Homo sapiens: one gene and its partners. The protein of the gene in region 1 purifies or fractionates together with the protein of each later gene. This does not show direct contact. Each region holds a gene or a part of one and is shown on either strand. Other genes may lie near its edges.

Evidence for each region.
Region 2: the proteins of TAB1 (region 1) and USP18 purify together in Homo sapiens (affinity purification with western blotting; 2 studies listed by BioGRID). This does not show direct contact.
Region 3: the proteins of TAB1 (region 1) and SEH1L purify together in Homo sapiens (co-immunoprecipitation; 2 studies listed by BioGRID and IntAct, with this or other methods). This does not show direct contact.

Annotation. Positions count from the first base shown.
Region 1 is NC_000022.11:39,402,780-39,414,313, reverse strand, and holds part of TAB1 (TGF-beta-activated kinase 1 and MAP3K7-binding protein 1), read right to left. Parts: intron 1-11,534. UniProt on the Homo sapiens protein: Key adapter protein that plays an essential role in JNK and NF-kappa-B activation and proinflammatory cytokines production in response to stimulation with TLRs and cytokines.
Region 2 is NC_000022.11:18,169,636-18,177,897, forward strand, and holds the end of USP18 (ubl carboxyl-terminal hydrolase 18), read left to right. Parts: intron 1-208; coding exon 209-304; intron 305-1,117; coding exon 1,118-1,285; intron 1,286-3,514; coding exon 3,515-3,646; intron 3,647-4,157; coding exon 4,158-4,207; intron 4,208-7,136; coding exon 7,137-7,182; 3' UTR 7,183-7,762; downstream 7,763-8,262. UniProt on the Homo sapiens protein: Interferon-induced ISG15-specific protease that plays a crucial role for maintaining a proper balance of ISG15-conjugated proteins in cells. Regulates protein ISGylation by efficiently cleaving ISG15 conjugates linked via isopeptide bonds.
Region 3 is NC_000018.10:12,941,459-12,953,070, forward strand, and holds the start of SEH1L (nucleoporin SEH1), read left to right. Parts: upstream 1-6,552; 5' UTR 6,553-6,663; coding exon 6,664-6,774; intron 6,775-10,396; coding exon 10,397-10,447; intron 10,448-11,612. UniProt on the Homo sapiens protein: Component of the Nup107-160 subcomplex of the nuclear pore complex (NPC). The Nup107-160 subcomplex is required for the assembly of a functional NPC.

The DNA of each region.
Region 1 (11,534 bases):
GTCCCAAATGCCTACAGCCCTGTCCATCCCCTGCTCTTTGCCTCCACATGAACACCCTCCCTCTTCTTCCCTACCAATTCTCCGGGTCCTTCGGGACTCTTTGGCTCAGGAGTCACCACCTCCAGGAGGTCTTCCTTCAGGATGACCCTACCCAGGACTGGCTGATGGCCCTCTCATGTACCCCAACGGCACCCTGATTCCAGCATCCCTGCCTGTCTGCAATGCCCATTCTACCCCATAGGATCTCAAACCAGGCTGTTCAGCATAATCACTGCAGAGCTTTAAACACGCTCACACAGCGGTCCAGGCCCTGGCCCCATCCCCGGCCTAAACACAATTTCTGAATTTCCCAGATCTCCCTAGGGTACATCCTGAGCATCTGTACTTTTTAAGCCCCAGGAACAACTTTGATGCAAGGCCCAGGTGCAATTCCCTGCCTCTCCCTGAAAGCTTGCCCCAAATCTGGCCTCCCACCTGAAAACTGCGCTTTGTTCACAACGGCACTCCCAGAACCACCATGCAGAACTACAGCAAACTGGAATAACTGGGAGAACCACAGTTCAATTTCAAGGAAAATAAAATTTGTATTGGCTGGGTGCAGTGGCTCACGCCCGTAATCCCAGCACTTTGGGAAGCTGAGGTGGGTGGACCATTTGATGTCAGAAATTTGAGACCGGCCTAGCCAACCTGGTGAAACCCCATCTCTGTCTCTGTTAAAAACACAAAAAAATTAGCCAGGCATGGTGGTGCATGCCTGTAATCCCAGCTACTGGGGAGGCTGAGGCAGGAGAATCGCTTAAACCCAGGAGTCGGAGGTTGCAGCGAGCTGAGATCATGCCACTGCACTCTAGCCTGGGCGACAAGAGTGAGATTCTGTCTCAAAAAAAAAAAAATTGTATTGAAAGCTTTATTGAAATATTAAACAAACACAAGCTAGAGCAACCAGATAAGAGAAAGAAATAGAGGGCATCCAAACTGGCAAGGAAGATGTTAAATGATCCTTGTTTGCAGACGATATAATCTTATATTTGGAAAAACCTAGATTCCACCAAAAAACTATTAGAACTGATTAAACAAATTCAGTAAAGTGGCAGGATATGGGCCGGGCGCGGTGGCTCAAGCCTGTAATCCCAGCACTTTGGGAGGCTGAGGCAGGTGGATCATGAGGTCAGAAGATCGAGACCATCCTGGCTAACATGGTGAAACCCTATCTCTACTAAAAATACAAAAAACTAGCCGGGTGTGGTGGCGGGCGCCTGTAGTCCCAGCTACTCTGGAGGCTGAGGCAGGAGAATGGCATGAACCCGGGAGGCGGAGCTTGCAGTGAGCCGAGATCGTGCAACTGCACTCCAGCCTGGGTGACAGAGCGAGACTCCATCTCAAAAAAAGACTCCATCTCAAAAAAAAAAAAAAAAAAAAAAGTTGCAGGATATGGAATCAACATACAAAAATCAGTAGCATTTCTATATGCCAACAGTGAATCATCTGTAAAAGAAATAAAACACACACAGATACTGTGTGCAACTTCTTAAAAGTTATTGTTAAGTCTTCCAGAAAGGATGTGGAAACCACTTCAACAGGCTTTTGCAATCATATATATAAAAAGCCTGTGGTTAGCTTTTGTGGCAAATTGTAGCTTCTGTTTAGTTATATACTGACAGGAGTGACTTCACTTTTTTTCATATAATTGGTTTTATTCTGCTTTTATCTATTTTGGTGCTTCAGCTCTACATTTTGCACCCTGGAGCAACTTCTGCAGGGTGTGGGAGTTTGTTTTATTTTTACATTAACATGGAGTAAAACTGGCTTCTGGGGCACGCACATCTGTGAATGTTGACACATGTAGAGATGTGTGTAACTACCACCACTCTCAGGATACAGGGCAGCTCCACTCCCAACGCACTCCCTCCCCTAATCCCTGGCAACCTATTTTCCACTGCTATGGCTTTGTCTTTTTAAGAATGTCATATTAAACGCCAGGTGCAGTGGCTCACGCCTGTAATCCCAGCACTTTAGGAGGCCAAGAGGGGCTCATCACTTGAGGCCAGGAATTTGAGACCAGCCTGGCCAATGTGGCGAAACCCTGTCTCTACTGAAAATACAAAAATCAGCCGGGCGTGGTGGCGCACACCTGTAATTCCAGCTACTCAAGAGGCTGAGGCACGAGAATCACCTGAACCTGAGAGGCAGAGGTTGCCATGAGCCGAGATTGCACACCACTGCACTCCAGCCTGGGCGACGGAGTGAGACTCTGTCTCCAAACAAAACAAAACAAAACAAAACAATGTCACACAATGTCACATAAATGAAATGATGCAGTAAACATGACCTCCTGAGACTGGCTTCTTTCACTCAACATTATGTCTCTAAGACTCATCCAAGTTGTTAGCCTGTGTGCATCAACAGTCTCTCTCTCTCTTTCATAGAGTAATATACCATTGTTCGGATGTAGTAAAGTTTGTTTATCCATTCATCCACTGAAGGACATTTGGGCTGTTTCGTTTCTTATAACTATGAAGAAATATGCTATAAACATTCATGTACAGGTTTTTGTATGAATGTAACTTTTCATTTATCCAGGGTAAATACCTAGGAGTGACAGGGCTGGCTCATATGGTAAGTATATGTTTAACTTTATAAGAACCTGCCAAACTGTTTTCCAGAGCAGCTGAACCATTTGCATTTCCAATGTTGAGTTCCGGCTGCTCCACGTCCTTGCCACCATGTGGTATTGTCTTTTTCTGAATTTAGATATTCTAAGAGGTGGGTAGTGGTAGCTCATCGTGACTTTAATCTGCACTTCCTAACGGCTAACGACACTGAGTATCTTTCACGTGTTTATTTGGCACCAACTCATCCTCTTTGGTGAAGTGCAAGTTTTTTGCCTATTTTTAAATTAGGTTATTTTCTTAACTATTGTGTTCTGAGAGTTCTTTTTATTTGTAACTTAGCATTTCACTCAGTAGTGTCTTTTGCAGAGCAAAGGTTTTAGTTTAGATGAAGTCCATTTAATCCATTTTTTCTCTTTCATGGTTCATGCTTTTGGAGTCATGTTTAAGAACTCTCTGTCCAGTCCCAAGTTACAAAGAGCACCTATGTTTTTTTCTAAAAGTTTTATAGTTTTATATTTTACATTTAGATCTGTGATCCATTTTGAATTAATTTCTGTGTAAGGTAGGAAGGAGGTTTAGGTCCATTTTTTTTTTCATTCCAATATCCAATCATTCCAACACCATTTGTTGAAAAGACTAGCTTTTCTCCATTGAATTGTGTGGGTCTACTTCTAGACTCTATTCTGTTCCTGTGATCGATGTGTCTACCCCTCCACCAATACTACATTCTTGATTACTGTAGCTTTATAGTAAGTCTTTAAATTGGCTAGTGTGAGTCTCCTTATCTTCTTGCTCTTTTTCAAAATTGTTTTGGCTATTTGAGTTCCTTTGCCTTTTCATATAAATTTTAGAATCAGCTTACTTATATCCACAAGTCTTGTTGGGATTTTTATTGGAACTGCTTTAAATCTACAGATCAATTTGGGGAAAGTAGACATTGTCACTATGTTGAGTCTTCTAATCCATTAACATGGTGTGTCTCTACACTTATTTATGTCTTCACTGGGTGACTTTTATTTATTTATTTTTATTAACACAATTTTACTACAAGGTCTGAAAAGCTACTAACGCCTTCTAATAGCCTTTGAAAATAGACAGTATAACCAAACCCTACTAATGGAAATGAAAAAAAAAAGGAAGATGAAATGGCAGTAAGTGCTAGCTGAGCCAAGTATGTCACAACTAAATTAAAAAAAAAAAAAAGTAGAAATGGCAACAATTCTGCTCAGCTCCTCATGACACCAGGCTTAAATTTAACACTTTCAGTACAAGCAACGCCAAAAGAAAAACTGCTGACCTGGCACAGTGGCTCACGCCTGTAATCCCAGCACTTGGGGAGGCTGAGGCAGGTGGATCACTTGAGGTCAGGAGTTTGAGACTAGCCTGGGCAATGTGGCAAAATCCTGTCTCTACTAAAAATACAAAAATTAGCCAGGCGTGGTGGTGCGCACCTGTAATTCCAACTACTCAGGAGGCTGAGGCAGGAGAATCACTTGAATGCAGGAGGTGGAGGTTGCAGTGAGCTGAGATCACACCACTGCACTCCAGCCTGGATGACAGAGTGAGACTCAGTCTCAAAAAGAAGAAGAAAAACGGCTTCACAGTAACACAAAATTGGGTCTAGTTCTAATCTTGAACTGTTTCATTTTAAAGCAAAATTAATGCCTCTCTTAACATAAATGGGAACTTAGGTCTTCCGGACCCACATATGATATTATGTGATTACAGTACATTAAATCACTACATACATTCTTTCAATAAATATCTGCTGAGCATTTGCAACAGTCTGGCAGTATTCTGGGTACTGCGGACACAGAAGAGAAAACAGAGAGGCTCCTTATTTGAAGCCTCCCTTCTAGGGAGAGAGAGAATTCAAACACACAATACAATAATAAGGCAATCTCAGACAGCGCTACGTGCTAGGAAGAAAACACACCATGGTAATGGGACACAGCGTGATGGGCGGTGGGGGCCTCTAGATGAAGTGGTCAGAAAAGCAGACCTCTCTGGGGAGGTGACGTCTGAGCCAGACCTGAATGACTATGGGGCAGTGACCTTCTAGAAGGCAGAGAAGGAGGCTTCCAGGCAGAGGGAGCGGAACGTAAAAAGACCCTAAGATGGAAAAAAGCATGTCAGGTTTACGGAAGCACGAGAAGGCTGGTGTGGCCTCTCTAGTGAGCACAGGGGAAAGACGCTCCATGCCGTGTTTGCAAATATGTGTGCACGTATGTGCCTGGGGGGGAGGGCAGTGCAAGGCCTCTGGGCCATGGGAATGAGTTAATAACCAGTGAATTAAGTATTCTTCAGGTAACTGATAAATGTTGCCAATTATCCCCTATGTCTTAGATCTGCTTAGTATATTTTCATTTCCAGCGAGCTCACAAAAGTCTCCTATAACCAGGCAAATATACTTCCAAAGGTAGCTCCTTTTCTAGTCTGTCTCCTGCCACCAGCTGGAATGAAATTAATTATGAGGTTAAGCAGAAATACAAAAGCATCTACCCAGTCAGGAGTATCCCATGTCTTCCTCCTGAAAAGATGGCCAAAGAAGTCAATATTTAGCACCCCAAAGTGCCACAGGTGTTTTAAAGCATGGGAGGAAAAGATATTTCTATTTTCTAGAAGGCTGTGATTAAAAATGAGATTAAGATGAACTCATCCTCTCATATGAGATGAATAATATTAACACAAATGTGTCACCACAATGCAAAACCTGTCTTCGATGCTGTAATCACAGTTACCTCCTCTGCCAGTATCTAATTCCCATAAGGGACAGACACAGGCTTCCAAGGACTTGAATCTTTCTAAAAAAATCCATAGTTTCCCAGCCAAATAAATAAGACCCAAGCAACTTATGGGTCTGTTCCACATTAGACATACACTATTAAAAAAGGCCAGTGAGGCCAGGCACGGTGGATCAATCCTGTAATCCCAGCACTTTGGGAGGCCGAGGTGGGTGGATCACCAAGTCAGGAGTTCAAGACCAGCCTGGCCAATATGGTGAAACCCTGTCTCTACTAAAAATACAAAAATTAACCGGGTGTGGTGGCAAGCGCCTGTAGTCTCAGCTACTCGGAAGGCTGAGGCAGAAGAATTGCTTGAACCCAGGAGGTGGAGGTTGCAGAGAGCCGAGATCGCACACGCCACTGCACTCCAGCCTGGATGACAGAGCGAGACTCCGTCTCAAAAAACAAAAACAAAAACAAAAAACGCCAGTGAAATTGTCTTCCACAAGTAAAGAAAGAAACAAGCTCAAACAGGCAACTGAGGAACTTGCCACGTTGGTGTGTCATGGCACAAGAACAATTCATCTGAGAGCGTTTCACAACAGGAGACCAGGAGTAAGCTGATGATCTACTGACCACTGTATGCTGTGCTGTATTTGGCTGATGTGGGAATAACTAACTTTCCCAAATGAGAAAAACTGTGTGTCTGACGGCAATCAATCTACTGAGCACGTGCCTTGTTCATTAAGTACCCGTGAATAGTGTCTAGATATTTCAACACTGCTAAGTACTTTTTTAGGAAATCTGATTTTCATAATGTTGAGGCAGTAATATTTCTGGAATTTATTATTTTATAAACTGGCAAATGGTGTTTGGGTCAGTAAGTATGGACACTAGTGCTATTGTTTATCTAAGGAGTCTTGGTCCATTCTTGGTAAAAACACTCCAGAAAACAGAAACTGATGGCTCCTTTCTGAACATGCTACTCTGTATACTTCAGCCCTAATGCTGGCAACTTACTCAGTGGGGAACACTTCATTAAGATCAGGGCCATAGGGCTGGGCATGGTGGCCCACATCTGTAATCCCAGCACCTTGGGAGGCTGAGGCGGGCAGATCACGAGGTCAAGAGATTGAGACCATCCTGGCTAACATGGTGAAAACCCGTCTCTACTAAAAATACAAAAAATTAGGCTGGGCACGGTGGCTCACACCTGCAATCTGAGCACTTTAGGAGGCCGAGACCGGCGAATCACGAGGTCAGGAGATCGAGACCATCCTGGCTAACACAGCAAAACCCCGTCTCTACTAAAAATACAAAAAATTAGCCGGGCGTGGTGGCAGACGCCTGTAGTCCCATCTACTATCGGGAAGCTGAGGAAGGAGAATCGCTGGAACCCGGGAGGCAGAGCGTGCAGTGAGCCGAGATCACGCCACTGCACTCCAGCCTGGGAGACAGAGTGAGGCTCCCTCTCAAAAAAAAAAAACAAAACAACAACAAATGATCAGGGCCATAGCAAGGCTGCCCACTCTATTACTTCACACAGAACTGGAGGTGTTAGCCCAGGCAGTTAGACAGAGTAAAGAATGAGAGCATAAAAACCGGGAAAGAAGTCATTTCTATTTGCAGTTGATAGGACAGTACGCCTGGCAACCCTAAAGAATCAATGAAAAACTAATGCAAACAGAAAAAGAAATCAGTTAGGCGGCAGGATAGAAAATCAAAGTATGCAAATCAACAGCTTTCATATACCCAAGAGAAGATGAGCATCTAGCCTCTATGTAATGTAAAATAACAAAGTCCTTTTCCTGTGAGTTTCTACCATGTCTGTCTCCCCCAGCCAAACTACTATAGAAGGTTGTTTTAAATCTAAATTTATATCAGTCGAATTACATCTTAATGCATTCATCCCAGCCTTCCAGACTGTCGAAAGTTTTGAATTTTGCCCTTTGACAGATTAACAATCTCACTCAGCTGTGTATCTTGTACAGACAAGGCCTTCTACTCACTGTTCCAAACAATCTCTAAAAAACTGTGACCAGAGGCCGGGCGCAGTGGCTCACGCCTGTAATCCCAGCACTTTGGGAGGCCAAGGCGGGCAGATCATGAGGTCAAGAGATTGAGACCATCCTGGCTAACACGGTGAAACCCCGTCTCTACTAAAAATACAAAAAAATTAGGTGGGCGTGGTGGTGGGTGCCTGTAGTCCCAGCTACTCCAGAGGCGGAGGCAGGAGAATGGTGTGAACCCGGGAGGCAGAGCTTGCAGTGAGCCGAGATGGCGCCACTGCACTCCAGCCTGGGCGACACAGCAAGACTCCGTCTCAAAAATAAAAAATAAATTAAAAAAAAATAAAGAAAGAGTAAGAAAAAAATTACCCAAAGAGCATATGTAAAAGTACCCATGGTAAGGCAAAGCCTGTCCCTTTCTGTCTTTTTAAGTCCTATCTACCCTAAAGGCACTGCTCAAATCCAACTAGGGCCAGAGGCCCATGATTCCCAAACCTCAATCATCCACTGACCATCTTCAAGAAACTATCTTTCACTCAAATGATTCCTTTTTTTTTTTTTTTTTTTTTGGTGACAGTCTCACTCTGTCGCCCAGGCTGGAGTGCAGTGGCGCGATCTTGGCTCACTGCAAGCTCTGCCCCTCCAGGTTTAAGCAATTCTCTGCCTCAGCCTCTGGAGTAGCTGGGATTACAGGTGCGTGCCACCATGCCCGGCTAATTTTTTGTATTTTTAGTAGAGACGTGGTTTCACCATCTTGGCCAGGCTGGTCTTGAACTCCTGACCTTGTGATCCACACGCCTTGGCCTCCCAAAGTGGCCCTGTGGCAACCATTGTGCTATAGCCTGGTATTGTTAATTAGATTACCTTATTTCACTGATTTGAAGACCTACATTTTCCACATGTTAACGTCTCTGGAGTTGGTATGTTACAAGTTAATTAGCTGTGAGTTCTCTTTCTGAGCAATAGACAAAACACTGACGTGTCCTTAAAACATTGGTGTCTTAGATCCAATGACACATGGGCAGTTTCTCACGTAATTCGGGCGCTCGCCAGACACTGGTTCACTACAGTGGCCGGAGAACCTCAGGAGGTTCTACCAAGTGGGAGTGAGAGTATCTGGTCTTCTCCGTGTTCCCCAGCGGACTCACGCTGCTGCAGCTGAGTAGGCTTGGATCGTGTTCTCCCGTCCCTTTCCATCTCCATCGAGGATTAGCCATACCGAGCGTCCATTGCTGATTCCATTAAAGCCTACAGGACTGCCAAGTCTCTCGCTTCCTTCCTCCACATTTCTGAACAATTTTCAGAAAGGTCATGTACTTTCTATTCACACAAACCACCCACCCCTCCACCCCTGCACACACTGATGCATACTTTCTCCCACGCCCCCAAATGCCAGGCCTGCCAGCACCAGCCGTGAGCGGCGCTGGAGCGCAGGGAGCAAGAGTCTGCGAGAAGCTGAGAAGGGGGCGTCTCTCACTCAGCACAGCCTCATCGCGGAGCCACTGCAACACACACAACAGCGAACGCAGGACTTAACTCTTCCATGTCTGAGAAATGAACTGCTCATGAGAAATTTCACAAGAATACGTTAAGAAGCCTGTTTCAAAAGACCTAATTTTGATTTGATTTTGTGAAGGAGTTTCCAAAATTAATGTTTCGGTATGAAAAGCTTCTACAGTGATCCAACAGTATTTAACCCAACAAGGCCTTTACAAACACCCTGTGCATGATGTAAGCATTCACTCCTCATGTATATATGTGTCCATGTCACATAATAGTTCACAAAGTACCCACACAGACTCATCTCAAAGTCCTGGGCAGCAGAAATGGACAAAGAATGGTTCCAAGCTCAGGCCACAGCTTGAATACCAAATTATGCTATGAAAAGGCCAAGTGTTTTTGTGGTAAAAGCACCCACATTCCTTAGAAGCAAAAAGGAAGCTCAGAAAGGGAGACTCACAACCCCAGGAAGAGGGCTCGGAGCAGGGGAGCAGCAGACCTTTCTCTCCAAAAAGCTTCCAAGGCCCCAATGCCCCCACCACCTCCAACCTTCCGGATGACCCACTTCTCTGAGACCAGCTCCACTCCTGGCCCCCACTTCTCCCACCGGAGTTTTCATTGAAGGTTCTCCATGTCGTCATCCTAAAGAGCTCCTCATTCATTCTTAAAGGGGCTAATAATCATTGTTGGCACTTCCAATGTGCTAGGGCAGCAGCTGGGTGTATGCAATGGGTATAGGTGGTACCCCCATGGACCTTTTTATTTTAGTGGCTATGTATTTATTTTAACATCCTTTAGATAAATTACACAGATAGCAGCACCTATGATCTCAGATATAATTGCTCAGGACATGTCGAAGTTTAAAAAATTGATTTTAAGCTTACTTTCTTTTTTTTTTTTTAAACAGGTCTTGCTGTGTCACCCAGCCTGGAGTGCAGTGAGGGGATCATAGCCTCACTACAACCTCAAACTTCTGGGCTCAGGCAATCACCCCATTAAGTCTCCTAAGTACTACAGGCACATACCACCATGCCTCACTAATTTTTTTAAAGACTGAATCTCACTATGTTGCCCGAGCTGATCTGGAACTCCTGGCCTCAAGTGATCCTCCTGCCTCAGCCTCCCAAAGGGCTGGGATTCCAGGCATGAGCCACCATGCCTAGCCTGATTTTCTTTTTTATAATTAAGTAACAGTACAGGCAAAATCAAACTCTTGATTCCCCCTGCCCCAGGGTGCCCCTCTTCCAGGGCTCCCTCACCCCGTAAATGGCACCACTGTTGTTTAAACCAAAACCTTAAGAGTCCTTTTTGACTCTTCTTCCTCTGTCACACACCTCACATTCAATCCATCAGCAAATCACATGAGCTCTTCCTCCAAAACACAACTGGAATCTGATACTTCCCACCATTCTTCTGCCATCCCCATGGCCAAGACACCTTCTCGCACCTGGATGACTCTAGGAGTCTCTTAGGAGGTCCCAGGCTTCCACTCTCACCACTCAAACTCAAAAGAGGGATTTTTCGGCCGGGCACGGTGGCTCACGCCTGTAATCCCAGCACTTTGGGAGGCCGAGGCTGGCAGATCACGAGGTCAGGAGATCGAGACCATCCTGGCTAACACGGTGAAACCCCGTCTCTACTAAAAAAAAAAATACAAAAAGTTAGCTGGGTGTGGTGGTGGGTGCCTGTAGTCCCAGCTACTTGGGAGGCTGAGGCAGGAGAATGGCGTGAACCTGGGAGGCGGAGCTTGCAGTGAGCTGAGATTGCGCCACTGCACTCCAGCCTGGGCAACAGAGCGAGACTCCGTCTCAAAAAAAAAAAAAAAAGAGGGATTTTTCTCCAATCAAAAGTCACATCACATCAGGTCCCTACTCAATCTGCTCCCCATGAAAGCTTCACATCACATGAAGAATGGAATCCAGAGGCCACATCAGGACCTGTGAAGCCCAGCATGGCCCCCGGCTCCCTCAGACCTCAGCTACTCCCAAGCTCCCCCAAGGCACTCCACCCAGCTGCACCAGCACCCCTGAGGCTCCTGAAACAGCAGCCTTTGCATCTCCTGCTCCCTTGGGCAGGAATGCTGCCCCCATTTCCCCGTTTTCATCTCATCAAATGTGGAGAAGTCTTCCCTTACCACCCTGTCCAAAATGGCACCCCCAACATTCTGTGTGTGAATCTAGACTGTTCCTCATAGCACCACCTGATGCTGTAGTTTGGATATTACAAAATCACAGATGATCTGTATCTGTTCGGTGCTCACTGTCTGTCCCCTTTACTAGACCATCAGCTCCACAAAGGCGGTGTCTCCTGCACCTGCAGGGTGCCTAGCACATAGTGAGTGCTCAGGGACATTTAAGGGAATGAACAGCATTCACTCACGGCAGCACTGAAGGTAGAAGTTTCTGGTTAGCGGGCAACCAAGCCAGGCTAGTAGTGGAATGTGTCAGTTCCTTTAACACCAACAATACTCCCCAGAGTCCTCTTGGTTTGGAGAAACTAAGGCTCAGGGACATAAAGTGATTTGCCCAAAGCCAGTATGAGACTAACACTGTTTTATCCGGCTGAAAGGTCTGGGTCCTTTTGAACACATCAAGCTCTCCTTAGAACCTCTTTGTGGCCGGGCACAGTGGCTCACACCTGTAATCCTAGCACTTTGGGAGGCCCAGGCAGGCGGATTGCTTGAGGCC
Region 2 (8,262 bases), about 21 Mb from region 1:
CATGATTGGGAGCTTCCTGCGGCCTCCCTAGAAGCAGATGCTGCCATGCTTCCGGTTGGCCTGCAGAACCATGGGCCAATCAAACTTCTTTTCTTATAAATTACCCAGTCTCAGCTATTGTCTCACAGCAGTGTGAGAACAGATGAATATAGTATTCTAGGTGGGAAATACCAACGCTGCTTTTTCCCTGTTCTCTTGGGTGGGACAGGAGGACGCCCTGCACTGCTTCTTCCAGCCCAGGGAGTTATCAAGCAAAAGCAAGTGCTTCTGTGAGAACTGTGGGAAGAAGACCCGTGGGAAACAGGTACTCATTCCCTAAATCAGACTCAGCTGTCCCTCGGTGCATATGGGGGATTTGTTCCAGGACCCCTGCTTTTACCAAAATCCACACACACTCAAGTCACACCCAGTCGGCCCTGTGGAACCCACGTATAGGAAAAGTCAGTCCCTCATCTATGCGGTTGTGCATCTGGGATACTTTATTTTTGATGAGCATTTGGTTGCAGATGTGGAACTCGTGCCTATGGGGGAGGGCAGACTGTATTTATTTACAACAATTTGTGTATAAGCGGACCCATACAGTCCAAACCCGTGCTGTTCAGGGGTCATCTGTCCTTCACTAGTCTGGGGTTGCCCCCCGTGGATTTCCTGATAGAATCATCAGAGGCCCCGAGGACACCCCATGGTGGGTGAGAAAGGGAATCTGGGTCTGGCTAGTATCTGGGACGCTGTGGTTCTGATATCTGGAGCCGTGGATGTGGCTTCTCATGTCGCATCACTGAGAGGGACTGCAGGAGGGCGCCTGAGAGCAGCCGGCAGGGCGTTTCCCTCCAGGCGAGACCAGCTCCCTGGAGCAGACGCGGTGGCTCCCTGGGTCCTGGTACCTGTGCAGAGCCCTGTGCCCTTGTGCCTCTTGTGGGGGGCCACATGGTGGTAGAATAGCCAAGTTTTGCATTATTCTCAGAGGAGCTCAGCAGATTCGGCGAACAGGAGCCTTGAACTCCGTGATGTCGCCCCGCTCCCCTCTTTTTGGGAAGAACGCGTTGCTAGCCCTGACATTTCTCTGACTCTCTCATTCCAAGTAGACTTCATCTCCAGAGTGATTTTGATTTTTCAGGTCTTGAAGCTGACCCATTTGCCCCAGACCCTGACAATCCACCTCATGCGATTCTCCATCAGGAATTCACAGACGAGAAAGATCTGCCACTCCCTGTACTTCCCCCAGAGCTTGGATTTCAGCCAGATCCTTCCAATGAAGCGAGAGTCTTGTGATGCTGAGGAGCAGGTGGGATGATCCCGACCTCCTTGCCATCCTGCCTCTCCCCAGATGCCATGTCCTTTCTGTTTTCCCTTCCTTCACCCCCAGTCTGCTAGGAGCCACCTGTTCCTCAGAGACTGTCCCCAGCCTCAAAAGCCTTTCTTCTTTCTAAATATTGGATTTGTGTTCATATGCCTCACAGCACTGAGGGACAGAATCCAGAATTCAGTAGGCTTCTTTGGAAATAATGTGGAATACATAGAAATGCATAGGCAAACATGTCATTGTGGGTTCATAGTACCAACCAAACTTTCTTCCTCAGATGGCCTGTGCCCACTTTGAGGATAATCATAAAGTAGCCAGTTGACTGGACCACATTTAATCAGAGTAAAGTTTAATTCACTTGTCCTGAGATAATAACTTATCAAGAGATTCTGAGAAAAAAAGAGACACAAGGCCAGGTGATGTGGCTCATGCCTGTGATCCCACACCTCAAAAGGCTGAGGCAGGAGGATTGCTTGAGCCCAGGAGTTCGAGACCAGCTTCAGCAACATAATGAGACCCCCGTCTCTCAAAAAAAAAAAAAAAAATTAGCTGGGTGTGGTAGCACAAACCTTTAGTCCCAGCTACTTGGGAGGCTGAGTTGGAGGATCACTTGAGCCCAGGAGTTTGAGGCTGCAGTGAGCTATGATCTATCATTGTACTCCAGCCTGGGCAACAGCGCAAGACCCCGTCTCTAAAAACAAAACAAGAAAAACTAAAAAAAAAAGACACAAATATCTTTTTTTCCATAGATTTGAAATGCTACATAACAAATTTTGTATTCCTGTATGTACGGGTCTATTTTTGGAGTGTCTCTTCTGTTTTATTGGTCTGTTTGGCTATTTATGCTCTAGAACCATGACATTTAGAAAATTAAGACCTGATAATATGTTACAATAGCTCCTATTATAACATGATTTCTTTACCTACTTAGGCCGTATACATTTCATAGGATTCTCTTTTTCTTTCCTTCTAGTTCTTTTTATTTCTACCTGCAGATTCTGCCCAATGAAGTGTATTTAAAATTGTTTTTCACTTAAAAAAGACTTTTTTGACTGGATGCAGTGGGTCACGCCTGTAATCTCAGCTCTTTGGGAGGCCAAGAGGATTGCTGGAGTCCAGGAGTCGAGCCCAGCTGGACAACAAAGCAAGACTCCATCTTTGCAACAACAACAAAAAAGACTTTGTTATGGAACATTACAAATAGATACCAAAGTGTGTAGTGAAGGAAGAGTTAGACAGTGAATCCTTGGCTGTAACAGTTACCAAAACTCATGGCAGGTCTTGCTTTTCCTATAACCCACCCTCTTGTTTCACCCAACCCTGTACTGGATTTTTTTGAAGCAAATCCCAGACATCATACTATTTCATTTATAAACACTTCATTATGTATCCCTAAAGAATAAGCACTCAAAAGATAATCATCTCCATCTTGCAATTCCTTAATAGCATCAAATATCTGGTCAACGTTCAGACTTCCTGACTGTTGTGTAATCTATGTGGTTTGTTTGACTCTAGATCCAAACAACGCCTACACTTGCATTTGGTTAAGTTTCTTTCTTTTCTTGAGTTCCTTTTAGATTTCCGCTCCTTTTCTTTTCCTTGCAGTTGATTTGGTTGAATATTTTTTTCATATGCCAGCACTGGCTGGTTGATATCTTTTAACATGTTCCTGTAACCCTTTTATTTCTTGTAAACTAATATTTAGATACAGATATTGCCCTGCATTTTGTAAAGTTCTGCACAAAGTCTGCAAATGGAAATAGGGATAATTTCAGCCTCCACTGTGGGTGACTCAGCTTTGCGTCTGCCGCCCTTGCCCTCTGTCTCCCCTCCCCCTACAAAAGACTTTTTTGGCTGGGTACGGTGGCTCAGGTTAGGGTCATTCCTGGGCTTGTGGAGAAACAGAACTGTGTTCTGATGATCCCCACCCCTCCCAGGGGAAAGTTCTAATCTTGCCTTGGCTTTGGGGGCCTCTCTCATGACCTGCCTTCCATCTCTTGCGTGCTCTGCCCTGCCAAGCTGCTGAGCCTTCGCAGTTCAGGATCCACACTCGGGAAAGCCCCTCCTGGAGGGTGCCCACTGGCTGTGGGTCGGGACTGTTTTCTAATATTCTAAAGTCCCAGAGTCGGGCCTAGTGTGGGCAGGTATAAATGTGTGAGGCAGTCGTGTTTGTGGTGGTGGGTGAACTGTCTCGTGCCTGTCTCTTTCCAGTCTGGAGGGCAGTATGAGCTTTTTGCTGTGATTGCGCACGTGGGAATGGCAGACTCCGGTCATTACTGTGTCTACATCCGGAATGCTGTGGATGGAAAATGGTTCTGCTTCAATGACTCCAATATTTGCTTGGTAAGAAACATCATCCACAATTGCCTCCTGCCCTGGATTGGCCACCTCTAGCAAATGCTGGGCTCAGGGCTGCGTGGGTCTCTGAGATCAAGACACACTGTGATCCTGCTGTCTGGGTGTGGGGCCTTTGATGAGGGTTCAAGCCTTTTTCGGTCTGAAGTCCCCATGTGGTTTGCACCTCTGTAAGGGTTCAATTCACTTCACTTCTAAGTTTTTGGTGCTCTAGGCTCATGCTCTGCAGCTTCCTGCTTTGTGGGAAATGTCTAGAGAGCAACGAGTGTTAGAAATATGTAAGTTAGGCCTCTGGGATAAGCATGACCAAGTTTAAACACAGGGACAAGGGCACTAAACATACTTCATTGCACAAGACATCCTGCTGCTGTTGCTCCAGGCTCTTGGGAGTTGCTAGGGGTGGGCTTGTCTGGAGGATGAGGGGCACATTATAGCATCCTGTCCTCTGTGGGTGCTTGTGTCAGCTGGCTGCTTGACCCCATTTGTTTCTGGCTTCCAGGTGTCCTGGGAAGACATCCAGTGTACCTACGGAAATCCTAACTACCACTGGTAAGAAACAGATTTGGGTAATTGGAGTCTGATGAGCTCACATAGGGTCCTTGGAGCTGCATGAAACGCCCATGGATTCCCCTGTTACTAACATGCTGATGGCTCACTGTCCGCCTCATCTCCAGCACTCACCCCACCACCCCATGTTTGCCTCACACGTCACACTCCAGGAATATTAAAGTACAGGTAGCTGCCAATCAGCCGTGCCCTCCATCTCCCGTCTGCTGTGCACATGCACTTCCTGGCCGTATTGTCCTCTCCTCGTTTACCATCTAGGCCAACTCCCCACTCATGTTTTCATACTCATGGCCTTTTCCTATCCTGTGAAGCCTTTGCTGATTCACCCAGATTCGTAGGGGCTTCTTGTATGGTTTTCTTTTCTTTTCTTTTCTTTTTTTTTTTTTGACGGAGTCTCGCTCTGTTGCCGGGCTGGAGTGTAGTGGCACAATCTTGGCTACTACACTTGGCTCCTCCTCCCAGGTTCAAGCGATTCTCCTGCCTCAGCCTCCTGAGTAGCTGGGACTACAGGTGTGTGCCACCACGCCCAGCTGATTGTTTTTTGTATTTTTAGTAGAGACGGTGTTTCACCATGTTGGCCAGGATGGTCTCAGTCTCTTGACCTCATGATCCACCTGCCTCAGCCTCCCAAAGTGCTGGGATTACAGGCATGAGCCACCACACCTGGCCTTCTTATATGCTTTTATTGCATTTGAGCATACCTCTTTTACAGCGAAGATCTTTTTTTTAATTTAATTTTATTTTTAGAGATGGAGTCTTGCTTTGTTGCCCAGGCTGGAGCACTGTGGTGTGATCATAGCTCACTGCAGCCTTGAACTCCTGGGCACAGGTGATCCTCCCACCTCAGCCTCCTGAATAGCTGGGACTACAGGCATACAGTCTGTACACCATGCTTGGCATATTTTAAAAAAATGTTTGTAGAGATGAGGTCTCGCTATGTTGCCAGGCTTGTCTCAAACTGCTGGGCTCAAGCCATCCATCCATTTCAGCCTGCCAAAGTGCTTGGATTATAGGCATGAACACTGCGCCTGGCCATCACACTGTTTTTTTGTTTGTTTGTTTGTTTGTTTTGAGATGGAGTCTTGCTCTGTCACCCAGGCTGGAGTGCAGTAGCAGGATCTCAGCTCATTGCAAGCTCTGCCTCGTGGGTTCATGCCATTCTCCTGCCTCAGCCTCCTGAGTAGCTGGGATTACAGGCGCCCGCCACCACGCCTGGCTAATTTTTTGTATTTTTAGTAGAGATGGGGTTTCACCGTGTTAGCCAGGATGGTCTCGATCTCCTGACCTCGTGATCCGCCCACCTCGGCCTCTCAAAGTGCTGGGATTACAGGCATGAGCCAATAAATATTTTTATAATCATTAACTACCGAGGAGAAGCTGGAGAGAAAAAAGGTGGATGAAGTTAAGGCAGAGAGACTTTGTAAGTTTCTTAGCTGAGCTTTTGGAGACTGTATATCAGAGATCCTATTTGAGGTGATTTTCAGCTACAGAGATAGGCCTGGTCATTTGAAAAATAATGGATTAGGTGAAGCTTGCGTTTGAAATCCTCCTTCTACTTTTCATCTTTCTCTCTTGTTTATTCTGAACATCCATCTTAGACACCCAATCTTTGTCACTTTGTGGTTGTCATTGATTTCCCTGTTATTGAGATCAGAGGTTGGCAGACTTTCTCTGTAAAGGGCTGGAGAGAAAGTACTTCAGACTTTGTGGTCTGTGCGGTGTCTGTTGCAACCACTTAACTCTGCCCTGTAGAGCAAAAGCAGCCGTAGACAGTACATGGGCAGATGAGCATGGCTGGGGTCCAGTTACATTTACTTGCAAAAAGAGGGTTGGAGACTGGGTGCGATCTCCCACCTTTAATCCCGGCAATTTGGGAGGCCGAGGCAGGAGGATCACTTCAAGCCAGGAGTTCAAGACCAGCCTGGGCAACAAAGCAAGACTCCATCTCTACAAAAAAATAAAAATTATTATAGCTAGGCATGGTGGTACACATCCATAGTCCTAGCTACTCAGGAAGCTAAAACTGAGGCAGGAGGGTCAGTTGAGCCCAGGAGCACGAGGCTGTGGTGAGCTATTATTGTGCCAGTGCACTCCAGCCTGGTGACAGAGCAAGAACGGTCTCGTCAAAAAATAAACAAAAGGCTGGGCACGGTGGCTCACGCCTGTAATCCCTGCACTTTGGGAGACTGAGGTGGGCAGATCATGAGGTCAGGAGATTGAGACCATCCTGGCTAACACGGTGAAACCCTGTCTCTACTAAAAATACAAAAAGTTAGCCGGGCGTGGTGGCGGGCGCCTGTAGTCCCAGCCACTCGGGAGGCTGAGGAGGGAGAATCGTTTGAACCTGGGAGGCGGAGGTTGCAGTGAGCCAAGATTGTGCCACTGCACTCTAGCCTGGGCTACAGGGCAAGACTCCATTAAAAAAAAAAAAAAAAAAACCAGCAAAAACCAAACAAAACATAATGCATGTTCTCTCTTATAAATGGGAGCTAAACATGGGGACTCATTGACTTAAAGATGGCAACAACTGGGAACTGCTGGATGGGGAGGGAGGGGAGGGGTGAAAGGCCAACTGTTGGGGAGTATGCTCATATCCACGTGACAAACCTGCACATGTGCCCGCTGAATCTAAAATAAAAGTTGAAAGTAGATTTAAAAAACCCCAAGAGGGCTGGGTTTGGCTTGTGTGTCCATAGCTTGTTAACCTCCGCTTTAGATATTAACTAATAGAAACATAGTGCTTATCTTCCCAGGCCACCTATTTTGTTCCTCTCCAAGGTGATGGATAGATGAAGGCCTAATCCAGCCGCCTGGAAGTTTGCTGACGCTTGTCCTGTCACGGATTAATGAAGCATTGTTTTCTGATGAAGGTTTCATGCCGCTGTGCTGATGTGTCTTCTCTTCTCTCTAGGCAGGAAACTGCATATCTTCTGGTTTACATGAAGATGGAGTGCTAATGGAAATGCCCAAAACCTTCAGAGATTGACACGCTGTCATTTTCCATTTCCGTTCCTGGATCTACGGAGTCTTCTAAGAGATTTTGCAATGAGGAGAAGCATTGTTTTCAAACTATATAACTGAGCCTTATTTATAATTAGGGATATTATCAAAATATGTAACCATGAGGCCCCTCAGGTCCTGATCAGTCAGAATGGATGCTTTCACCAGCAGACCCGGCCATGTGGCTGCTCGGTCCTGGGTGCTCGCTGCTGTGCAAGACATTAGCCCTTTAGTTATGAGCCTGTGGGAACTTCAGGGGTTCCCAGTGGGGAGAGCAGTGGCAGTGGGAGGCATCTGGGGGCCAAAGGTCAGTGGCAGGGGGTATTTCAGTATTATACAACTGCTGTGACCAGACTTGTATACTGGCTGAATATCAGTGCTGTTTGTAATTTTTCACTTTGAGAACCAACATTAATTCCATATGAATCAAGTGTTTTGTAACTGCTATTCATTTATTCAGCAAATATTTATTGATCATCTCTTCTCCATAAGATAGTGTGATAAACACAGTCATGAATAAAGTTATTTTCCACAAAAGGACTTTGCAGTTTTAACGGGGGGCAGTAGGGATTGTGCTATAGAAATTCAAAGGCAAGGGAAGTCACTTCTGTTGTGGGGCCCTGGGAGGAGCCTCCAGGCTGGAAAGGGTTAAGGTGGAGGTCTCCGATAGGGGCAGCGTACACAGTGGACTGGCTGCAAAAGGCCGTGCTCAGCATTCAGACAGCATCACACACTCCGCTTTTCTCTACCAGGGAGGCAGGTGGGGAAGGATAGCGATGGGAAGGCAGGCGGAGCTCAGAATGTGGAAGGGGATCCAGTAAGACTTGGAAGTTTGCACCTGATCTGGTGGGTGGTGAGGGGCCCTTGAAGGGGCAAGGAGGCGAGGAGCACTCAGCTGTGTTCTTACACTGATCTGCCACTGGGGTTAGAGACAAACGTGGTGGGAATGGAAAGCCACGCACAGTCACTAGCGCCTCTAGGGGGAGAATGGATGTGGCTGGTGAGAGAACAGGGGGGCCCAGGGAGAGTCCGGCACC
Region 3 (11,612 bases), on another chromosome or scaffold:
TATACTCATTAATTTGATAAAAATGTTCTAAGGTGGCAAATATATGGTCACCCAGAACCTTGCCTCTCATGAATATTTGAGTAGGAGTGTCCAATGGCGGTATTTTGGGTATCTCTACTGCCATATCACACTATAGGTGCTCTGTTTACCACTGAAAGTAGAGTCATTAGTGCATTAAAATCCAACCAGATTAGAGAACCAATTCCAGAAACCACAGAACCAATTCCAAAAACTCATCCTTAAGATTCTGTTCTTCTAGGCTGGGCGTGGTGGCTCACGCCTGTAATCCCAGCACTTTGGGAGGCCAAGGCAGGCGGATCACAAGGTCAGGAGATGGAGAACCATCCTGGCTAACACGGTTAAACCCCGTCTCTACTAAAAATAAAAAAGAATTAGCCGGGTGTGGTGGCGGGCGCCTGTAGTCCCAGCTACTTGGGAGGCTGAGGCAGGAGAACAGCGTGAACCCGGGAGGCGGAGATTGCAGTGAGCCGAGATCTCGCTGCTGTACTCCAGCCTGGTGGGAGACAGCAAGACTCTGTCTCAAAAAAAAAAAAAAAAAGACTCTGTTCTTCTAGAACCAATCTTTGTATAAAATCTGTAAAATCTGTATCAGTCAGGATTCTCCAGAGAAACAAGACAATATTTACATCTTTCTTTTTTATTTCTAAGAATACAAAAGGGTTTTTTTTTTAAAGCAATTGGCTCATGTGATTGTGCAGGCTGTTAAGTCTAAAATCCTTGGGACAAACTGGTGGGCTGGATATGGGGTAGGAAAGGATGTTGCAGTCTGAGTCTCTCATATGTAGGGTAGGTTAGGAACTCAGGAAGGATTTCTGTGTTACACAGACTTGAGGCAGAATTTTTTTCTTTGGGAAACCTGAGTCTTTTATCTTAAGGCCTTCAACTGGATGGATGAGGCCCAGCTACCTTATCAAGGTTAATCTCCTTTACTTAAAGGCAACTTGTAGGGACAAGAGTGACTTTTTATTTTTATTTTTTATTTTTTTTGAGATGGAGTCTTGCTCTGTCGCCCAGGCTGGAGTGCAGTGGTGTGATCCCAGCTCACTGCAACGTCAGCCTACCTGGTTCAAGTGATTCCTGTGCCTCAAGCCTCCTGAGTAGGTGAGATTACAGGTGCCCGCCATCGCACCCGGCTAATTTTTGTATTTTTATTAGAGACGGGGTTCCACCATGTTGGCCAGGCTGGTCTTTAACTCCTGACCTCACGTGATCTGCCTGCCTCGGCCTCCCAAAGTGTTGGGATTACAGGCGTGAGCCACCGCCCCTGGCCAATTTAAAACGCCAATCTACCATGTAAGTTCCCACTAACCCTGAGTTTGAGAATGCCTCCAAAATGTCTAGTTGATGTATTACTCTTTATGTAGGAAGAGCTATTTATTGTAAGTTGCCTCCAAAACCACCTTTGTTGTTGCAGAAATCACAGGCTGTGATACCCACAGCCACCTATACATTCCTTCCAGAGCACGTATGCATTTTTCCCAAGCTGTGTGTCTGGGGGGTTGTGGAGTGGAGATCTACCTGTCTTGCAGCCACTCAAGACCGCAAGACCCAAGACTTCTGTCTGTAAGTTCCCCTAATAAGTCAATAAATATAATCCCCTAATAAATCCCCCAAAATATAATCCCCTAATAAATCATCCAAAACTGACCAACTGGATTTGTCTGCCTCTTTCTTTGGTTTCTCAGCTCCTTCGGCAGTTGGGGGTCGCTTTGTATATATTAATACGACCCTTTCACGGAACACAACTGATTGCAGATGTTAATCCCATCTACAAGATACCTTTATAGCAACATCTAGACTAGTGTTTGAGCAAAGAACTGGGCTTCATAGCCTAACCATGGTGACACATAAAATTAATCATCACACCAACCTATGCTGTTAGGAAGGAGGTCGGTAGTTACTGCTTGGGGAGGGGTGTAAAGACCAGAAGGGACCACAGGAGAGCTTTAAGGGTGTGAGTCATGCTCCCTTTTTCGAGGTGATGATGGCTGCACAGATGTGTTCAGTTTGTGAAAATCCAGTGAGCTGTGTACACTTGTGATACGTGTACATTTTGGAATCTATATTATACTTCATTAAAAAGCAAAATGTTAAGGACAAAGGCAGTAAGACAAAAAGCAATGGAAATAAGAAAAAAAGCCTTACATCAGATATGGAGACTTTAGAAATTGCAAGACATTAACATATATAACTCTATATTAATAAGTTTAAATATTTCAGTGAAATGGCTGATTATTTATTTATTTGAGACAGTGTCTCACTCTGTCGCCCAGGCTGGAGTGCAGTGGCACGATTTCAGCTCACTGCAACCTCTGCCTCCTGGGCTCAAGTGATCCTCTTCCTGCCTCAGCCTCTTGAGTAGCTGAAATACAGGCGTGCACCACCACACCTGGCTAATTTGTTTTCTGTAGAGACGAGGGCTCACTATGTTGCCCAGGCTGGTCTTGAACTCCTGAGCTCAAGCAATGCTTCTACTTCGGCCTCACAAAGTGCTGAGATTACAGGCATGAGCCACCATGCCCAGCACAAAATGGCTGATTTTTTAAAGGAAGATATAAATGATCAAAATTGTCTTGACAAAAGGTAAAAAATCTGAAGAGGCCATGAATAAAATAATTTTAAAAGGTAGTTAAAATTAACTATACCTATCATCACCCAAGGCATGAGGCTGATAAAATTTTGTGAACGTCATCTACAAAATCTTCACGGAATCTTCTACAAAATCTTCATAGGAATCTTTCAGTTCCTATGCTATTTAAACTGGCGCAGAGCAGGAAAAAAAATGTGAAAGCTTCTTAACTCATTGTAGGTTATTTATTTATTTATATTTTTGAGATGGAGTCTCGCTCTGTTGCCCAGGCTGGAGTGCAGCGGTGCAATCTCAGCTTACTGCAACCTCTGCCTCCAGGGTTAGAGCGATTCTCCTGCCTCAGCCTCCTGAGTAGCTGAGATTACAGGCGCTCACCAACACGCCCAGCTAATTTTTGTATTTTTAGTAGAAACGGGGTTTCACCATGTTGGCCAGGCTGGTCTTGAACTCCTGACCTCAAGTGATCTGCCCGCCTCAGCCTCCCAAAATGTTGGGATTACAGGTGTGAGCTGCCACGCCCAGCCTTCACTGTAGGTCGTATTCTTTCCAGAATATGAACTGGAAACCTCCAAGCTTGTTTTTCCAGACTCTTATTAGCTCTCTATTTCTAGTTAGGTTCTGAATTGAGAGACAGTAGGGGATTCAGATGCAGGAGGAAGAAGACCTTTTCTCCAATTTGTGGAGGCAGCTCACATAGCTGAGTAGTGGTGGTGGTGGCAATGGGTGAGCCTGGCTTCCTGCTCGGGGGTGATGTGAACAGCAGCAGTAGCAGCAGCACTCAGCCCTAGCTCCAGCAGTACTAGCAGAGGCTCCAGGAACCTCAGCTGTTCAGAGCTTGTGGGCTCCCATGGCTGTTACTCTGTTGGACGCCTGCAGTGTAAGCTGGAGTATTGGCTCCTGGCTTTCTGCCTGCTGGTGGTAAAGGTGCCAATGTCAGCAGCCTCAGAGTCAATGATGGTAGCACTGGGTAAAACTATTTTCCCTTTCACGCTCCCAGCCCAGAGTTTCCCGTAGTTACTAGTCTCTGGGTAATCTCACATGTTCCCTTTTTGCTCTTAATTAACCCCTTGGATATATATGTAACCAGTTTCCTGTGTTAAATTCTCTCTCTCTTTTTTTTTTTTTTTTGAGATAGTGTCTCCCTGCGTTGCCCAGGATGGAGTCCTGTGGCACAATCTCGGTTCCACCACCACTCCTGGGGCATTTTTTTGTATTTTTATTTTGTATTTTTAGTAGAGAAGCGGGTCTCGCCACGTTGCCCAGGCTGGTCTTGAACTCCTGAGCTCAGATAATCTGCCCGTCTCGGCCTCCCAAAGTGCTGGATTACAGGGTAATTTAGCCACCAGGCCTGGCTGACACGACCACTTTGGAAGACAGTTTGTAAGTTTCTTATAAAACCAGGCCAGGCACAGTGGCTCATGCCTGTAATCCAAGCACTTTGGGAGGCCAAGGCAAGAGGATCGCTTGAGCCCAAGAGTTTGAGACCAGCCTGCTCAACATGGTGAAACCCCATCTCTGCAAAAAACAGAAAAATTAGCTGGGTGTGGTGGCACTGTGCCTGTAGTCCCAGCTGCTCGGGAGGCTGAGGTGGGAGGATCATCTGAACCCAGGGAATTTAAAGCTGCAGTGAGCCACGATTGTCTGCCATGACAGAGTGAGACCCTGTCTCAAAAAACAAAACAAAACCCCAAAAAACAAAACTAAACTTACTCTTACAATATGATCCAGCAATCATGCTTCTTGGTATCTACCCAAAGGAGTTGCGAACATGTCCACACAAAAACCTGTACACAGATGTTTGTAGGAGCTTTATTGATAATTGCCCAAACACAGAAACAACCAGAATGCCCTTTAGTTGGGGAATGAATAAACACTGTTACAGCCTGACAATGGAATATTATTCAGCACTAAAAAGAAATGAACTCTCAAGACAAGACATGGAGAAAGCTTAAATGCATATTACTATAAGGAAAGAAGCCAATCTGAAAAGGCTAGCCACTCCAAGATTCCCATTATATGCCATTCTGGAAAAGTCAAAACCATGCAGTCAGTGGAAAGATCAGCGGTTGCCAGGTGTTGTCGGAAGAAAGGGATGAACAGGAGCACTAAGGATTTTCAGGGCAGTCAAACTATTCCGCGTGATACTATAATGGTGGATCCATGTCATTATATATTTGCCAAAACCCACAGAATAAAACACCAAGAGTGAACCCTAATGCAAACTCTGAATTTTGGGTGATAATGATGTGTCAATGTAGGTTCACTGATCATAACAAAGGTACCACTTTGGTATGGGATGTTGACAGTGGAGGATGCTGTGCATGTGTGACAGTAGGGGTACATACGGGAACTCTATTTTCTGCTCAATTTTGCTGTGAACCTGAAAGTGTTCTAAAAACTAAAGTCTATTTTAAAAAATCCACTGTTTCACCTAATTCAACACTTCACTCCCACTCTGATAATCTCTGGCAACCAATGATCTGTTTACTGTCTGTATTTAAATTTAATTAAAACAATTTTTAAACTGTTTTGATATTTTTATAATAATCAATATATTTTGATTGGACTTTTATAGTGAGCACTTTCTTTGGAAATGAGTGTCTTTGACCTTCAAAAAAGTTATAGTTGTTATCAGTTATCATAAGAGGTGGGGCCCACCTCTTAAAGTAGCAATAAAATCTTATTTATGGTTGAAAAAGGTCAGGTCATTGCGCCACTTCTCTTTGCAGGTTTCTGTGCAATCCATCAGGGGACAGCTGGGACTAATCATTTAAAAAACTTTCCAGCCTGCTAATTTTACCATACCTCACATTTTTGTCATTCCTGGCCAAAATCCAAAGGGCAAGTCCCTTCTGCAGCCTCATTTTTTTTTTTTCTGTACTTTCGCTCCCCTGACGCAAGCTTCCACTGTCTCCCATCCTAACTTTACCACTACGCCCTCTAGAATGCCTTTTCCTGATAAGCAAAACCCCCCGAGTCGTTGGCTCCTCCACTTTCCGGTTTTGGCAGAATCCTTGATCTGAGCCAGGCCTCTTCCCAGGGGCTCTGGCCCTCTTCACTTCCTTTTCCCCGGAGGACTCTGGCTCCCGGGTAGCAAGCAGCCCACTTCCCCGGCCGCTTCCTTCCCCCGGGATGACACGTTTCTACAGGCGGACTCTTCTAATTCATACTATTTCCCTACCCCCGTGGTGGCTCCTAGCACCCCCAGGCCTGTTCTACCTGTAAAATCTTGACACATTTAAACTACTACTTCTGATCCTTTCCTCCCCGTCCAGCCTTCGCTCTTAGGCTGCCGAGCCTGGACTGCTTGTCATCCCCTCAGGCGTCTCCCCGGCCCTCCCTGCTCTTCAGCCGTCCCGACGGAGCGCGGCTCCTGACCAAACCCACGGTTCGTCTTCTCCACCTGCTCCGCGCGCCTCGCATGTGTCTGGGGGGAAACACATCCAAACGTCGACTTAAATGATTCAGGGCCGAGGACCGTGAGAGGCAGTCTTCACTTTTTCATCTTTCTTCATTTGCACAGTATACCAATAAGCTCTTACTACTTCTCAGCACAGGTAACTCGCCTTTTGCAGAGCACCCTCCGCCGCCGAACGGTCAGAGCCTGGAGGAACCCGCACCAGGATCGTAGGGCATGACGGGCCGGGGGCGGGACGAGGATTGACGAGCCGGGAACAGGGCGGGGCTTGAGGGGGCGGGAGGGTGGGGCGAGGCATGACGGCTCTGGTGGGAGGGTAGGCGGGGCTTGACGGGCCTGGGGGCGGGGCGGGGCTTGAGGGACCGGAAGGTGGGGCGAGTCATGACGGGCCGGGGCGTGGGCAGGGCTTGAGGGGCCAGGGGACTGTGTGGGGCCTGACGGGCCGGTGGGTGGGGCGGGGCTTGAAGGACCGGAGGGTGTGTGGGCGGGGCTTGATAGGCAGGGGCGGTGCGGGGGCGTGGGCAGCACAAGCCGTGCGCTCCCGGGCTGCGAGGTCTGGCTAGGCTACGGGCCACGCGCCGCCGCCGCTGCCGCCGCCACTGTCCTCTTCGGAGGCGCGGGCCCGACGGAAACCATGTTTGTGGCTCGCAGCATCGCGGCGGACCACAAGGATCTCATCCACGATGTCTCTTTCGACTTCCACGGGCGGCGGATGGCAACCTGCTCCAGCGATCAGAGCGTTAAGGTGCGCGCGGCGCTTGCGGGCGGGGCCGACCCCGGAAGGAAGGAAGGGGAGTGGGTGGGCGGCGCGGGGAACGGGGCTGTGTCTTGGTTCAGTGACGCCGCTGGAAGCTGTGGGGTGGCGGGCGAGCCCTGGCTGGACTGAGCGGAAGCCCTCCCCGCCCGCGTATTGTGGGGTCACGGCGGCCTCGCGGGCCGCCCTCCCGTGCGCCTGCGCAGCTGGTGCCACGTGCGCGCTCCCGCCCGCAGGGTACGCCGGGCCCTCTCCCAGGCCGCGCTGCCGGGGCTGCGGGCGGGAACCCAGGGGCATCCCACCGTCAGCCTCGGCGTCGTGGGTCTTGCCCGCGCTGTTCACCCGACGACCTGCAGTGGGACCTGGTGGGAGACTTTGCCTGGCTGGCGCTGCGTCGAGTTCTGTGCCCCGCCGGTGTTCTCTCACCAGGGCACATGGTTTTCTCCGTGGGTTCAGAGCAGAAGCTCACTTTGTTACGCCGAGGAAGAAAAATACAAACCATTTACATCCAATGATTTCCCTGCTTGCTGCCCAGGAATCGGAGGGTTTGTTTCTTGAAGTTCCCGTAAACGTCTGTAGACACTTCCGACAAGCAGAATTTCTTTTCTTTTTTTTTTTTTTTTTTTGAGACCGAGTCTCACTCTGTCACCCAGGCTGGAGTGCAATGGCACGATCTCGGCTCACTGCAACGTCCGCCTCCCGCTTTCAGGCGATTATCCTGCCCCAGCCTCCCAAGTAGCAGGGATTACAGGTGCACGCCACCACCCCCGGCTAATCTTTTTTTTTTTTTGTATTTTTTAGTAGAGACAGAGTTTCACCATGTGGGCCAGGCTGGTCTCGAACTCCTGACCTCGTGATCCACCCGCCTCGGCGCCTCGGCCTCCCAAAGTGCTGGGATTACAGGCGTGAGCCACCGCGCCCGGCCTACAAGCAGAATTTCTAATGTGGGGATGCTACATGAGATTTAGGAACCTCCCAGATGTGTTGCAGGATGAATGAAAGCTGGAGTGCGGATTATTTGGTTCTCGACAACTCCAGAGTAACTGGAAATCTGAAGGATAGTTTATCCTTTTTCACATTCGAGTTTGATACCAGTGATCTCTCAAAGATAAACTTTTTATAAATAGTGTTGCAATTTTTAAAAGATGTAGTTTCTTTTTTAAAACAAGTTTATTTTTGTTGTAATAAACTACGTTAACCGTTTTTTTTTTTTTTTTTTTTTTTTTTTTGAGACGGAGTCTTGCTCTGTCACCCAGGCTGGAGTGGGGTGGCGCAATCTTGGCTCACTGCAAGCTCCGCCTCCCGGGTTCACGCCATTCTCCTGCCTCAGCCTCCCAAGTAGCTGGGACTACAGGCGCCCGCCACCACGCCCGGCTAATTTTTTGTATTTTTTAGTAGAGACAGGGTTTCACCATGTTAGCCAGGATGGTCTCTATCTCCTGACCTCGTGATCCGCCCACCTCGGCCTCCCAAAGTGCTAGGATTACGGGCGTGAGCCACCGCGCCCGGCCCACGTTAACCGTTTTAAAGTGTAGAATTCAGTGGCATAGAGCACAGCATTCACATTTTTGTGCAGCGTCGCCCCTGCCCATCTCCAGAACCTTTTCATCATCCTAAACTGAAACTCTGTACCCAAGAGCACCCTGTTCCGCCACCCCATCCTCTGGTAACCTCTATTCTACTGCTTTCTATTAATTTGCATATTCTAGGTACCTCAGATAAATAGAATCATAGAATATTCGCCCTTTTATATTTGGTTTATTTCACTTAGTATAATTTTTTTTTTCTTTTTTCTTTTTCCTTTTTTTTTGAGGCAGAGTCTGGCTCTGTCACCCAGGCTGGAGTGCAGTGGTGCGATCTTGGCTTGTTGCAGCCTCAACATCCCAGGTTCAAGCCATCCTCCCACCTTAGCCTCTCCAGTAGCTGGGACTACGAGTGCACGCCACCACGCCTGGCCAATTAAAACATTTTTTTTGTAGAGGCAGGGTCTTGCTGCGTTGCCCAGGCTAGTCTCGAACTCCTGAGCTCAAGTGATCCTCTCACCTCAGCCTCCCAGAGTGCTGGGATTACAGGTGTGAGTCACCTTGCCCAGCCCTCTTAGGTCCATTTATTCCAGAGTACTTTTTTTTTAAAGGAGGAGCCATGTATTTATTTGTATATATTTTTAATTGAGCAAGTAATATATTTTTCTTTTTAGAAAGTGAAAAAATTATAGACTTATTGCTAATGTGTTAATATTTATTGATTTCCTCTGTTTTTCCTTTAACGTTTTAAGTTGTCATGGTAGAGTGTGTGTATATACGTATATGTCTTGTCAGAAATAGTGTTGTACTGAAATTTTTCATTAGTTTAGCATTTTATGTATTTTGAATGATTTTCTTAGGCTAATTCTAGAAGATAAATTAGTGGATATTTTAAACACTATTGAAGAGAATTGACAAATTGCTATTTTGCAGGTCGTACCGTTTTATACCGCCAGTGATAGTATTGATTTGATAGTGTTATTGCCCTCGTTACATTTTTAACAGGTGAAATTGGCACCTTCTTATTGTAATCTATATTTTTTCTGGGTAATAAGGTTTAATTTTTTTGTTTTGAGATGGAGTCTTGCCATGTTGCCCAGGCTGGAGTGCAGTGGCTATTCACGGGCGTGATCATAGCCTTAAACTCCTGGGCTCAAGTAATCCCTCCTGCCTCAGCCTCTTGAGTAGCTGGGACTACAGGTGTGCACCACCATGCCTGGTTTCAATATTTTTGCTTTACCATTTGTTACATGTACAGTTGAGCCTGTTGTTTGTAGATTCTGTATTTTTTGAATTTGTCTACTCTGAAATTTACTTGTACCCCAAAAGTCACACTGGTTTTGCAGTCATTTGTGCATGTGTGAGGAGTGGTGAAAAAGTTTGAGTCTCAGGACAGACGTTTCCCATTGAGGTGAAACCAGGCGATACTCTATTTTGGCTCATACTGTAAGCAGGTGTTTTTCATGATTTATTTAGTGCAATGATTATTTGTTCTTTCTGTTGGTGATTTTGCTGTTTAAAATGGCCTCCAAGCGTAGTGACTGTAACTAATTGTCTCTGTTACCTAATAGAGCTCAGCTTCCTGAATCCCTTGGTGCTTGGCCCAGTGCTTGACACATTCAAGGTTCTCAATGTAAATTTTTTGAGACGGAGTCTTGCTTTGTCTCCCAGGCTGGAGTGCAGTGGCGTGATGTCAGCTCACTGCGACCTCCGCCTCTGGGGTTCAAACGATTGTCTTGCCTCAGCCTCCCTAGTAGCTGGGACTATAGGCATGCGGCACCATGCCTGGCTAATTTTTGTATTTTTAGTAGAGACGGGGTTTCACCACGTTGTCTAGGCTGGTCTCGAACTCCTGACCTCAGGTGATCCGTTTGCCTTGGCCTCCCAAAGTGCTGGGATTACAGGCATGAGCCATCGCACCCAGCCTCTCAATAAATACTTAATTGAATGAATGAATGTTTACTTGCTGATTGTGTTCTTTTGTTAACTATATGTTCACCGCTTTCCTTGTACACTGATTCAGTCTTATAGTTTTTGTATCAATTTGTAGGAATTTTTGTATAAAATATCTGCCTTTTATTTTCTTATAGGTCTGGGATAAAAGTGAAAGTGGTGATTGGCATTGTACTGCTAGCTGGAAGGTTAGTATTTATTTTTACATTTATTAAAAATACAGAAATATTTACTGTTTATTTTATAGTTATCTATGAATTGTTTTGAGAAAATAACATTTATACAGTAGTTCTTTTCCTGGGAAGACATTTTACTGTTTTTCGCTATTAAAGTAACAACTGTGTTTCTCAGAATTTGAGAGTAAGAAAATCTGTAATTCTGTAGCATTCTAACATAATTATCTTAGTAATTCAGAATATTCCTTTTGCCTTTACATATTTTAATTGTTGTGATGTTTCATACATAGTTTTCTCTTAAAAAAAAAAAACAAAACCTTTACTCAAGTAGAAATTTTCTTTTTTTTTTTTTTTTGAGACGGAGAGTCTTGCTCTCTTGCCCAGGTGGGAGTGCAGTGGCGTGATCTTGGCTCACTGCAACCTCCGCCTGTTGGGTTCAAGTGATTCTTCTGCCTCAGCCTCCCAAGTAGCTGGGACTGTAGGCGTGCACCACGATGCCCGGCTAATTTTTGTGTTTTTAGCAGAGATGGGGTTTCGCCATGTTGGCCAGGCTGGTCTCAAACTCCTGACCTCAGGTGATCCTCCCTCGGCCTCCCAAAGTGCTGGGTTTATAGGCATGAGCCACTGTGCCCGGCCAAGTAGAAATTTTCATACCTTAAAAGTCATCCATTTTAAATGTACAGTTCAGTGAGTTTTAGTAAACTTACATAGTTGTGTAGTCATCACTGTAATCCAGTTTTAGAACTTTTCTCTCAAACTCAGAAATTCCTTTGTATCCTATTCCCACTCCAAGCCCCAGGCAACCACTGATCCATTTTCTGTCTCCATAGGTTTCTTCTCTCCTCTGCCCTCCCTCTCCCCTCCCCTCCCACCCTCTCTTCTCTTCTTTTCTTTTTTTTTTTTTTTGAGCTGGCGTCTTGCTCTGTCGCCCAGGCTGGAGTGCAGTGGTGCGATGTTGGCTCGTTGCAACCTCTGCCTCCTGGGTTCAAGCGATTCTCCTGCCTCAGCCTCCTGAGTAGCTGGGATTACAGGCGCATGCCACCACACCCGGCTAATTTTTGTAGTTTTGGTAGAGACAGGGTTTCACTATGTTGACCAGGCTGGTCTCGAACTCCTGACCTCAAGTGATCCGCCCGCCTTGGCCTTCCAAAGTGCTGGGATTACAGGCTTGAGCCAC